Linked DNA regions of Homo sapiens: regions 1, 2 and 4 are each reported to be linked to region 3. Evidence: microRNA targets listed by miRTarBase, many of them from high-throughput screens and not tested one by one. Region 3 holds a microRNA gene; each other region holds the end of a gene's coding sequence.

Region 1 (3,000 bases), not on the chromosome of region 3:
TTATAATGGGTACCATGATGTGGTGCCAATTGTGTGGTGGGCTGACTGGACAGTAAAACTCCATTCCTTTGAGTAGGATTCTGATCCTGTGTGTCAGGGCCTGAGAAAGCACTGCATGTTGGTTATATCTAGGGATTTCCCTGTCTTGCCCCTCTATCCCCCGTCCCCTTTACAATATTAGGGTTGAGGTGGTACCCTACTGCTGTCCTCTACTGGCTTGAACCTCAGGGCTGACCTTGCCCTTCTTCCCCTGTCCACATCCCCATCCCTCTGCTAATTCTCTCTGATTCTGAATACTACTGATAACCATCCTGGTTTCTTTATAGAATTGCTGGGCACCCACTGGCTCAGAATGAACGCTGCCTACACATGTTCCTGCAAGAGGAGGCAATTGACAGGAACTACGTCCCGGGGAAGGTGCGCCAGTAGGAGCCCCTCTCACCACCTGCCCTCTACTTTCCTGCTGAAATGACATTGGTTTTTACACTAAGCCTCTCTCTGTCTTTGATCTGAAGTTGGCTGCCCATCTCCTGGCCTGATAGACTGTCTGGCATTGTGCTCCCTGGTACCTGACTACACCATGTGGGCACTCTGCTAGGATCCTCTTCTCTGAGGAGAGGTGGGAACCCACAGGCAGATGCCCTTTGCTTGGGGTTGGGGTGGGTGGGTGGGGGGATTAGACTGGAAGGCAATTTCTTGGGCATTTACCCATGCCAGAAGGCTAACCTGGGGGGAGGGGGGCGCTTGTGCTGGTGAGGCACTTGGATACATACTGATGCTGCAAGTTCAGGGGATTTTTCTTACTCTTAGGTTTAACCAAGAACACTGAGCAGGGAAAAACCCTGCCTTTCCTAACTGCATGTATTTTTTCCTTTTTGGAAAGGTGGTAGAGACTCAGAAGCTTTCCTTGTTTTCTTCAGGCCTGCTCCCAGTTTTCTTAACAGTTTCTTTTGTTGCTTTCTCTCTCCCTTGTTGCTTTCCATGGCAGTAATCCTCCTAGAGTCCAAGCAGTCTGTTGTATGGAGCAGGGTGTGTGGGTTTTCTGGGCCCATCATTATGGCTGCTTCAGAGTCAGAAGAAAGCCATAGGGCAGTAGGGGAGCTCCTATTGCCTAGCCCCTCTCCCTTTGTGGCTCCCACTCTAGCTGCCTATTTTTGCTCATCAGCTGGTGAGTCAGTATGGGCCAGCAGTTCTCCCTCCCTAAGCCCTTGCTACTTTATGGGTTAGCTTTGCAGGTTTGGTGGCTTGAGGGGTGGGGGCAACTCACCACTGCCAGGTAACTCCCTGAAGGGTGGGAGTGGATTATCTTCTAGGCTCTTACCCGCGGTAGGGAAGGGCATCAACACTGTCTTCCTTCCATTCTCCTTTCCCCCATCCCATTTAGTGCTGCCACAGGGCAGAAGCACACAAACCAACCACACAGTCTCTGACTTCTCCTAAGCACTTTGAGTTGTTGAATGGGGCTCAGGGGCAAGAGTTTTTGCTGCCCTCCCCAGCGTGGTCACAGGGTTATTGAACTGCCTGCACTTGTTTCTCATGCAACTCCAGCATTTTCCCCAGAAGTTGAACTATGGATAGCAGCTTGGTATGGATTTCCTAAATCTTAACATTTGAAGCAGCTTCTTGAGGCTGGCAACTATCCTGGTTTCTGTCTTGGAGGGGGTGGTTTGTTTGCTGGGGCCCAACGTCTGTCCCAAGTGGTGGGGTGAGAGTAAGTTAACTTTGGTGCCAGGTGAGAGGTGGGGGCTCTTTGCTTAGACTCCCTATCATGGAAAGATTGGAGTTTTCTATGCAGGGCACTGTGGAAAAGGATTGCTGATTCTGACTGACCCTGATCAGAGAGATTAGGATTGTATTTTGACATAGGATTTGGAACCCATCTAAATGTTGAAGTTCCCTGAGACAGCTCTCCAGCTGCTGAGCCTGCGCCAGGGGCTAAGCAGCCCCTAATGAGAGGCTCTGCTCCCTTTCCCACCTCGCCAATGTTGTTGTTGCTGCCTTTTTGATTTGTATCCTCTGTTATAGACATTTTTTAAAAACGATTTCCTCTTTCATTGTGCACAAGTGCTGAGAGTCTGAGGCCCCATTTCTGCTGTGTATATATATCCTGACTCGGGGCTTTTATTCAGCAAACTGTTCATTCTTCTGTCAGACAATGTCATATTCAACTCTGTTCATATTAAACCACTGTGAAGCAAGCCTCTGTTTTCCTGCTTAAGTTGTAAATTTAGTATTCTTTAGTGTCTAGGATATGCTGGGTATTATGCAGAAATCATACAGTGTGGCCAGTGTCCTGAGGTAATGTTTTGCATTTAAATTTTTTTAGAAAGCAGAATCTTAACTTATCTTAATGATATTTACCTATCCTTTTTGCAACTCACAACTGACTTTGTCACAGAGGTAATGCATCTGCTTGCAGGAAGTAGCTGTAGGCTCAGTACCTGTTGTTTGAGTCAGATTTAGCAGATTTGGTTTTTAAGCTTGTGGGTTTGTGCTAATTTGGGCAGAATATATTTATTATATATGTGTGTGTGTATGTGTGTATGTGTGTGTCTGCATATGTAATACATGTACATAAACACACATGCATGTGTTCATCCTCTGACACACCCACACAACACCAACAAACATTTCTTCTATAGGCTTTTTATCTCAACTGACACTGTTTTTTTTCCCAAATAAATTTGACACAGGCAGAAAGGTGGGTGAACTCTCAGAACTTTTGGTGGGTGGATATTCATCTGACCAGTGAGCTCTGAAATGGTTTCCCTACACAGAGTGGGTTTTGGCAAGGGTTGGAATGAGGGGAGGTAGCAGTCTTGTCATTTAGAAAATCAAAGCTAGTTTTGATGTAGCTCAACATGGAAAGAAGGTACAGAAAGTGATGTGTTCAAAACATTAGCAAATTAAGGCTGAATGTGGTTGGCTCATGCCTGTAATCCCAGCATTTTGGGAGGCTGAGGCAGGAGGATTGCTTGAGCCCAGGAGGTTGAGACTAGC
Region 2 (3,121 bases), not on the chromosome of region 3:
AACCACTATTACCAGTTTCTAGACTACCCTTCCAAAGATAATTTCTGCATATACAAGCTTATGCATGTGGGCATATGTGTATTTTTTAAACCTAAGTGTCAGCATGCTGTATACTAACTTCATACATTGCTCTTTACAAAAAAAAAAAAAAAAAGAATTTCTGAGCAGTTCCATTTTTGGAATCCCATAGACCATGCTCTGTGATAAGAGGAGCAGTGTCTTGCATTGTATGTCTTCTTCTTCCTCTCTTTCCAACACAGACATCGATGCCAGACCATGGGACTTCCAAGCAGAAGAATGTACCTTGAGGGCCAACATTGAGGCTTTTAACAGCCGTCGCTATGACAGACCCCAGGACTCTGAGTTTTCACCTGTGGATAACTGCTTGCAGAGCGTACTGGGGCAGAGGTTGGATCTGCCTGAAGATTTCCACTATTCATATGAGCTCTGGCTCGAGAGAGAGGTGTTTTCACAGCCCATCTGTTGGGAGGAGCTGCTCCAGAATCACTGACTAAGTTCTTGTCAACAAGCATCAATAGATAGAGGTCAGCTCCAATAAACTGTGCTCTGCCTACCCTGTCCATACAGGCGCTGTTACCAGTTCAGGGCTCTTCTGGGGGCTCTTGGGCCTAAAGATGGTGCAAGGGTGGGATCCTGAATCACAATAAAATGATCAACTTGCCCTGGGGTCAGTTGGGTGCCCAGTTGGCCTTGGAAATCTTTTGGTGGATCAATTCTAGACAAGCTCTTTGGTAGGACCTTTTCCTGCTTTAGTCTTGGCTACAACCAGGCTAGACTTTGCTGGCTCTAAAAGAGGAAATTTGTTATGGCATTTGACCCATGGCATTCATCACAGATAGTGGGAGGTACAAGTCATAAAATAGGGAGAAAGTTTTCTTCTTGCTCACACTGGATTCCTAGGACTTATCAGAGATTTGGAAAAACCAACTTTGAAATTAAGTTTGCATTTTAAATTTCAAATTTGGAAGCCTCTTTCTGAAATCATTAGCTCTAAGATTATTTTAGAGCACCTGCACCTTCTTTGTGAAGGATGATGATTTACTATTCCCTCAATACTGCATGTTATCGAAAAGTGTGTTGTGTAAAGTGTTTTTTTCCTCATTCTGTAAGAGATCTATATTCAATGTGAAAATTATTTCCTTGTGTACTCTGTATAGGGCATGGAATGCTCTGCCATTTTTAAAGAGCCACAACCAATATGAAATAATTAGGTCCTCTCTAAGGATGTTTCATGTTTTTCTTAAATGACTCCAGTCTTCAAATGGCTGAGCATACTGCAGAAAATTATCCTTTTCATCTAATTCATTTTTTAAATGACAAGTTAACTACAGGAGGCTTTATTTATTCAGATGGTATGTCCACTTGTGGTCGTGATCAATATATTTTTCTAATTGAAAAGTAAAAGCATCACAGCTTACCATTTTTCTTTTTCTGCAGTGTTGATTAATGATTTTTTTCCCGTTTATTGCTAGCAGTTTCAAAGTGTCATGTGGAGATTTAGCAATACTGTCTCTACTTAAAAGTATTGCACATTTCATTGAAAATGTGAGAGTTGATATACCAGCCTCTTTATATTTCTCTTTTACAGCAGAATCACATACTTCTCAAGATAAACAAGGTTTTTAAAAAAGTTTCTGATTTAGTTAGGATCATATGCTTTTTTTTTTTTTTTTTTTTTTTTTTTTTTTTTTGAGACAGAGTTTCGCTCTTGTTGCCCAAGCTGGAGTGCAATGGCACGATCTCGGCTCACTGCAACCTCCGCCTCCCGGGTTCAAGCGATTCTCCTGCCTCAGCCTCCCAAGGAGCTGGGATTACAGGCACGCACCACCATGCCTGGCTAATTTTTTGTATTTTTAGTAGAAACAGGGTTTCACCATGTTAGCCAGGCTGACCTCAAACTCCTGACCTCAGGTGATCCGCCCGCCTCCACCTCCCAGGGTGCTGGGATTACAGGTGTGAGCCACCATGCCCAGCCTCTTCAAGCTTTTTTACTATACATGTTGCCCCTCTCCCCCAACTTAGGCACTACTGAATTTTTTATGATGGCACCAGGTCACTTTATGCTGGGTGATATAGTCAAAATTTGCTTATTTACTCTGCCCCTCGTCAACCACAGTATCATTTCAAGGACATGAATAAAATACTTGACAGTATCCAAAGGAGCTATACCAAAATCTAACAAGTAAATTTTGGATTTTGCCTCTTTGTGCTTTAAAGTACCAGGATTTCTGTCTCTATGGATAGGTCTTGGAGAATGTTAAGTAATGGATGAAACTTTTTAAAATAATTTGTAAATTTTACCTAAGTAGGACAGTAGTCCTTACTGCAATCAAAATAATTTACTGAGCACAACTCCTGTAAATTAATCTACAGTCAGGCTAGTATGATTTTAATATGATTTGAGTAAAAAGATAATTTTCAAGGAAAGAGTAATCATCCATCAATTTATTATAAAGCCAGATAGTATTCAATTTATGTCAAGAACAAAGAAATTGCCCTTTTAAAAGCATGTACGTGAATGCTTTTTGAGGCACAGAAGTATGCTAAGCTTTAACATTTTGTATTTATTTACAACCCTTTTCTAAGGGAAGGTTACTTCTCAGTGCAGATGGAGAAACTGAAGCACTAAGGATAAATGATTAGTTTCCAATCACATCATTTTTTTCCACAGACTTGCTGGGACTAGCTTTCAGGTATTGACAGCCAGCCCCATATATTAAGGTAACCAGGTTGAATCTTCCAATTTGAGAACCCATGTATGGGTTGCAGTGAGCCGAGATCATGCCACTGCACTCCATCCTGGGCAACAAGAACGAAACTCCGTCTCAAAAACAAAGAAGGATATAATAAAGTTAATATATAAACCATGTATGTGGTTAGGAATAAATTCAAATTCACCAGTCTCCAATGGTGATTACTTTTACTACATAGAAAAACATTTTAGTGACTTACAGAGGATTTTTATTTGTGAATATTTCAGTAAAGTTTGTGTTGATTGTTGATAACACTGTTCATCTACTGAAGCACTTTAATAAAAATAAAATGAGCTGGAATTAGAAATTTGGTGTTTAAATTCTTCAACACAAGAGAAACTCAAAGT
Region 3 (3,121 bases):
TGTGGCTGTCCTGCTTTTGCTACCCTCTGCTCAGGTGAGATGCCATGTATCTTCCCCACACCCCATGCCTAAGCAGGAGGTGTCTGGATGTCACTGTGCAGCCCCAGGAGCCCAAGGTTCTGGAACTGCTCAGGTCTCACCTCCTCTGGTACAGGAGGCATGGAGGGAACCCCCTTTGTCTTTTTTTTTTTTTTTTTTTTTTTTTTTGAGATGGAGTCTCGCTCTGTCACCCAGGCTGGAGTGCAATGGTGCAATCTCTGCTCATTGCAACCTCCGCCTCCCGGGCTCAAGTGATTCTCCTGCCTCAGCCCCCTGAGTAGCTGGGATTACAGGCACCCACTATCATGCCTGGCTAATTTTTGTATTTTTAGTAGAGATGGGTTTTTGCCATGTTGGCGAGGCTGGTTTTGAACTCCTGACCTCAAATGATCTGCCCATCTCAGCCTCCCAAAGTGCTGGGATTACAGGTGTGAGCCACTGCCGTCCAGCCTTTGTTTTATTCCATCCCCTCACCAGACTCGACCTCACGCGCAAGACTCCCTAGAGGTTCCCTCTATGAGAATTGAGGGACAGAGGGTCATTGTCACCATCCCTCTACCTGATCTCTGCTTTTCAGCATCTCTCTGCTGGGGAAGCCCCCCCATAGCTCCATCATGTCTATGGCAACGGGGAAAAACCTCCAGTCCATTCCCAAGAAGGTAAGCAAAACAGACCCTGTGAGCCTTGCAAGTGAGCATGGAAGGGACTGAGGATTGGGGGAGGAGAGAGGGGCTAATCTGGAAGGCTCTGGATGGGGGATTCCAGCAGAACTCCGGCACTTGGTTCCTAGTCTTCCCCCAGATCAAAGAGGAGGTAGTGGCACAGAGCTGGGAAAGACCCTTGCTGGGGCTTGAGCTCCCTATCCCCCCAGGCCTGACCATTTACTAAGAGCCCGTTGAATACGTGGAAGAGCTAGGAGCAGCCGGCAGAGGGGCTGTGCGCCCCAGGAGTGACTGGCCTTGTTCCCGCAGACCCAGCACTACTTCCTGCTCTGCTTCCTGCTCAAGTTCAGCCTCACCATCAGCTCCTGCCTCATCTGCTTTGGCTTCACACTGCAGAGCTTCTGTGACAGCTCCCGGGACCGCAACCTCACCAACTGCTCCTCCGTCATGCTGCCCAGGTGGGTCCCAGCCCCAGAGATCCACCCATCGCCTGCCTCGCCTCGAGGCTTCCTCCCTCCCCACCCCAGCCTACCTCCCTGCGGCCCTAGAGGGGCTGAGCCCATGCCTCACTTTGGCAGCAACGACGACAGGGCTCCAGCCTGGTTTGAGGACTTTGCCAATGGACTGCTGTCGGCTCAGAAGCTCACGGCCGCCCTGATTGTCCTGCACACTGGTGAGAGGGCTCCCTGGGAGGGCGTGGATGATGGTGGGAGAGGAGCCCCACTGTGGAAGTCTGACCCCCACATCGCCCCACCTTCCCCAGTCTTCATTTCCATCACCCATGTGCATCGCACCAAGCCCCTGTGGAGAAAGAGCCCCTTGACCAACCTCTGGTGGGCCGTGACAGTGCCTGTGGTGTGAGTATTGCTAGGATGGAGGGCGGAGTGTGGGCTGGGGAGGAGAGGGCCTTCTGCAGGGCTAGGATCGGAGGGCGGGACCGGGGCCAGTGGTTTAACTGTACCCTGCCTGAGCTAACTGTTGTACTGGGAAGAGCAGGGAAGGAAGCAAGCAGTGTCGGGTTCACACGGGGCCGCCACCTCCTGCAGGCTGCTGGGTCAGGTGGTCCAGACGGCTGTGGACCTGCAGCTGTGGACACACAGGGACAGCCACGTCCACTTTGGCCTGGAGGACGTGCCCCTGCTGACATGGCTCCTGGGCTGCCTGTCCCTGGTCCTTGTGGTGGTGACCAATGAGATCGTGAAGCTACATGAGATTCGGTGAGCTGTCAGCAGGGCGCCTCCCTCTGGGCTCAGGCATGTTCCCTAAACCTGTTACTCCCTTGGCGACACTCCCCCACCTTTCCGCTGCCCATCCCTCCCTCCTCCTCTGGTGTCCTGCCCCGGCCCCTGGTCTAAGGATCTTTGCCAACCTGTACTTTAATCTCCTGCCCCACCAGGGTCCGAGTCCGCTACCAGAAGCGACAGAAGCTGCAGTTTGAAACTAAGCTGGGCATGAACTCTCCCTTCTGAGCCACTGGCTGTGGTGGCTGTAGTTGCCCCCGTCCCTGGGGCTAAAGCCAGACCCATTTCTGAACAGGGGAGTTTGTATCATGAATGTTTCCAGGTTTGCTCCTGCACCCGTGGCACTGGAAACCCAGCTCCCCGTGTCAGACCCCGCTGTCTTCCTGAGCCCTGGGGCTCACTGTGGAGGAGCTGACGGCCTGGGCCCTTGGCCAGTCCTGGCTCTTCCCTGGGCCTCACCAGGGACACTCTTGAATGTATGGCCTCAGGCGCTCCCTAGAGGGGCCCTAAACCCCCTCACCTGTGAGCTACCCCCTTTAGGGATCCCTTGCCCCCTTGGAGATCCCTTGCCCCCCAGTGCCTCTGCTCGTGGGTCCCTGGACACGGCCTTGAAGCCAACCTTCTTTGGAGGAGCAACAGCAGCAGCCTTGGCCGACGCGTCCAACTCCCAAGGCTGCCGTGGAGGGCAGGGGGGTGGTGCTTGCCTGGATGTGGCCCCGAGTGCCTCCCCTCCCTCCCTCTGTGGGGGAGTCTCCCGCCTGAACCTGAAGATGGAGCAGGGCCCCCGCTTCGCCCTGGAGCCTCTTCCTGTGCCTGGCTCAAGCTGGCTGCCTGTCAGTCTTGGGGAATCTGGCCCAGGTCTCCTCAGCCTCTGCCCCAGTTCTGGGAGAAGTTTCTACTGGTGTATATTTTTTACTGGAAATGAGCCTTTTAGGAATGAATGTAGACTGGTTTGTATTAAAATGTGTCAATTGCTAAGAAATACCTGTGGCTGGTCTGTAAGGCCACTCCAGGGTCTGCCCACCCCCGGCGGTGGCTGGCAAAGGGAGGCCTAAACCTTCCTCCATCTACGCGGGTGGGTCCCTCAGGTCTGGCTCAGGCGAGACCCCTAGGGTCAGGGGTCCCCATGTCACAGAGGCAAACACACAGCCCAGTCACGTGGAATGGTGTTTTCATTGG
Region 4 (3,121 bases), not on the chromosome of region 3:
CTCAAAAAAAAAAAAAAAAGATTAAATGCAAAGGCTTATTCGGGGAACTCTGTATGTAAGTTGGCAAAGACCAAAATAGTGCCAACATATGAAGCACTGAAAAAGAAAAAGTTAAAATATCTTAGCCTCAACACTCGAAATATAGCAAGCCCACATATTTGAAGACCAAACACATCAAGACTCATCTTTCCCTTAAAAGAATTTTCAGCTGGGCACAGTGGCTCGTGCCTGTAATCCCAGCACTTTGGGAGGCTGAGGCGGGTGGATTACTTTAGACCAGGAGTTTGGGACCAGCCTGGCCAAAATGTGAAACCCCCGTCTCTACTAAAAATATAAAAATTAGCCGAGACTGGTGGTGCACACCTGTAGTCCCAGCTATTCAGGAGACTGAGACAAGACTCGCTTGAACCCAGGAGGTGGAGGCTGCAGTGAGCCAACATTGCACCACTGCACTCCAGCCTAGACAACAGAGTGAGACTTTGTCACAAAAAAAAAAAAGAGAGAATTTTTCTTTGTCAGATGTAGAATATAACTTAAGAGAAATTTATTAACATTTAAGCTCCTTAGTATAGAAAACTGGAGGAAAATAACTTTAGTACACACTTAATTTGCTATACTAAATTTTTTTAATAAAGACCTTCAAAAGGAAAATTTAGATTATAAGTAGCATGGCACATATAGAATATGAACACAGAAAGTTCATATCTAAGCCCTAAGCCACTTATGATAAACACCTATAAAAGGAACAAAAACTAAACTTCCACATTATTTTACCCAGTAAAAGATGTAGGCTATTAGTAGAAAGTTGGTTAAGTAAATTCAAAAAATAAAAATATAAAAAAGAAATAATGAGAAAATTTTTGAAAAATATTAATAAAATAAAGATGTAGGCTACATAGCTGAGGCTATTATTCACACCATATAGAAATTAGGTTCTCGGGCCAAGCAGAAACTATAACATAATCAGAAAGAATACCTAAAGAAATAAAGTATGACTTCCTAAATTTTTTATTTTAAAAATGCCCAGTTTATTTATTTGCTTTGCCTAAGATAGCTGCATTCATTATTACAGGGTCAGGGGACTTGTAAAAACAAATATCAATTATTATAAATAATCACAGAAAACAAATAAACTGGAAAATAAACAGCGGTTACTAATTTAAGGTTTTAACCCTTACCCCAACCACCCAAAAAAAGTAGCCATTTTTAAAATAAAGATTAAGAGTTGGTGGAATTTAAGGGAAATGCCATCCGGTAATGTTACCTAAATACTAGAAAGGAATCAGCACAAGGAAACAGGAACAAAGCAGTGCAGTACTTCGGTATTACAGCGCCACCCACTGGCTAGAAGTCCTCATAGCACATATGAGATGTAGCCATAAAATAGATGAATTCTTGAAATAAGGAATATAACACTGACTATTCTGATTCAGTAGAACATAAAAAATGTCTAACAAAACAGAACCAGACACATTATATTATTTCTACAAGTAAACAGAATATCTATTAGATATGTTCACAAGGGTTTTATCAATTTTGAAATCCAAGTGTATAATCCCCAAATGCTGTAAGGACTTAAATTTTATAGCCAAAACAATTAACACATAAAATGCTATTTCATCTCTGTAGCTGAATACATAAATAGTATCTTTAAGTAAAAGATGCATACTTGCATTTCATTGCTAAGCAATTCATAATATATTTAAATGCTGGTAAAACCTACAATGGCATCTGCTTCACTTCTACCTTTACTAGAGAAGTAACAAAATACACTGAGCAAAGGATATGTCCAAAAAACTAAACTGAAAAACAGTTTCTAAATAAAGTCCACAGACCATTCAGATAAACTAGTAAAAATAGTTTTTCTTTAAAGTACCACAGCACCTTTGTAGTTCAAAATATATTTACCATAGGCTGGGCGTGGTGGCTCACGCCTGTAATCCCAGCACTTTGGGAAGCTGAGGCAGGCAGATCACAAGGTCAGGAGATCGAGACCATCCTGTGAATGGTGAAACCCTGTCTCTACTAAAAATATAAAAAAAATTAGCCCGGCATGGTGGCGGGCACCTGTAGTCCCAGCTACTCAGGAGGCTGAGGCAGGAGAATGGTGTGAACCCAGGAGGCAGAGCTTGCAGTGAGCCGAGATTGCACCACTGCACTCCAGCCTGGGCGACAGAGCAAGACTCTGTCTCAAAAAAAAAAAAAAAAAAAAAAAAAAAAATATATATATATATATATATATATATATATATATATATCGTAATATATCTCTTTATTATCCTAGTGACATCTGTTGTGATTTTCCAAATCACTATTTATTTTCTTAAATACCAACATTCTTAAAATCTTGGCATGAAATATTTGAGAGTTACTTCTCCTGAAGTACAATCTTTCCTTTAAGACCCAGAATTACATATAGGGCATGACATTAATTTATAGTCTATATGACCCTCTTGAATGTTGTTCTCTAAAGGCTGGACTTCAGAATTCCTCTACAGACATGACCCCAGTCTTCCAAGTGAGAATTCACAAATATGCTCCAGGCAGTCAGGACAGGCTTCAAGTTTCTTTGGTTTGATGATAATTATCACTTGGCCTGCAAAAGCCAAGGTCTTTGCTTGCTCATAGATGGTTGATTGCAGATAAAAATATGATGAGAAAAGTAACATTCCCACAGACATAAATTGCCAACACTGCCTTTTTAAAAGCATGACCCTGAAAGAAAAATTGAGATATGAAAAAAAAAAGTATTACCATTAAGGTTTGTGTCAATGAACAAGAAAAGGACTTACCTCTGTTTCCACTGCAGTAAATGACTGAAGGATCTGAATTCTGTCATCATCCAATATTTCAACTGTCAAGAATAATAACATAAGTTTTTAAGGGCAGCGTTATGCAGGTAAATTAAATTTTTTAAAAAAACCTGATTTGTACTGTTCACCCCAATTTCCAGGGTAGAAATTCTCCCACTCCAAACTACTAATTATTGCAGACTTCCTGAACAATTAAGCCTCTCACAAATGTGGACAATCTGGCAAGAGCACACATTTGTTAAATAACTTAAAATATGCCTTCTTCTAGTCATTAAACACCACCTCAAAGTCATAACGATCTAAGCTCT

What was found. Region 3 holds the annotated microRNA hsa-miR-6785-5p (UGGGAGGGCGUGGAUGAUGGUG, at 1,389-1,410, shown strand). A microRNA usually pairs through its seed, bases 2 to 8, with sites in the 3' UTR of a target mRNA and lowers its output. Matches are read on the target gene's strand: a 7mer-m8 pairs with bases 2 to 8, a 7mer-A1 pairs with bases 2 to 7 and ends in A, and an 8mer does both.
Region 1: the mRNA of SNX12 is a reported target of hsa-miR-6785-5p. Seed matches in the 3' UTR shown: 7mer-m8 at 1,195-1,201 and 7mer-m8 at 1,487-1,493.
Region 2: miRTarBase lists STRIP2 as a target of hsa-miR-6785-5p. Seed matches in the 3' UTR shown: 7mer-A1 at 1,815-1,821 and 7mer-A1 at 1,951-1,957.
Region 4: the mRNA of FRRS1 is a reported target of hsa-miR-6785-5p. Seed matches in the 3' UTR shown: 7mer-A1 at 246-252.

The regions. Positions count from the first base shown.
Region 1 is chrX:71,058,445-71,061,444 of GRCh38, reverse strand. It overlaps SNX12 (sorting nexin 12), which reads left to right. Exons shown (of 4, transcript NM_013346.4): 4 at 327-2,198. The coding sequence ends at 429. Among named protein-coding and RNA genes, the nearest start is that of SNX12, 8.4 kb to the left of the region's middle.
Region 2 is chr7:129,485,319-129,488,439 of GRCh38, forward strand. STRIP2 (striatin interacting protein 2) reads left to right here. Exons shown (of 21, transcript NM_020704.3): 21 at 261-3,081. The coding sequence ends at 511. Among named protein-coding and RNA genes, the nearest start is that of SMKR1, 16 kb to the right of the region's middle.
Region 3 is chr17:75,497,165-75,500,285 of GRCh38, forward strand. It overlaps MIR6785 (microRNA 6785), which reads left to right and starts at 1,384; the gene lies at 1,384-1,464. It overlaps TMEM94 (transmembrane protein 94), which reads left to right. Exons shown (of 32, transcript NM_014738.6): 26 at 1-34; 27 at 617-698; 28 at 1,011-1,159; 29 at 1,280-1,374; 30 at 1,465-1,558; 31 at 1,748-1,918; 32 at 2,098-3,121. The coding sequence ends at 2,170. CASKIN2 (CASK interacting protein 2) reads right to left here. Exons shown (of 20, transcript NM_020753.5): 20 at 3,097-3,121.
Region 4 is chr1:99,706,406-99,709,526 of GRCh38, forward strand. It overlaps FRRS1 (ferric chelate reductase 1), which reads right to left. Exons shown (of 17, transcript NM_001361041.2): 16 at 2,793-2,854; 17 at 1-2,715. The coding sequence ends at 2,623. Among named protein-coding and RNA genes, the nearest start is that of FRRS1, 59 kb to the right of the region's middle.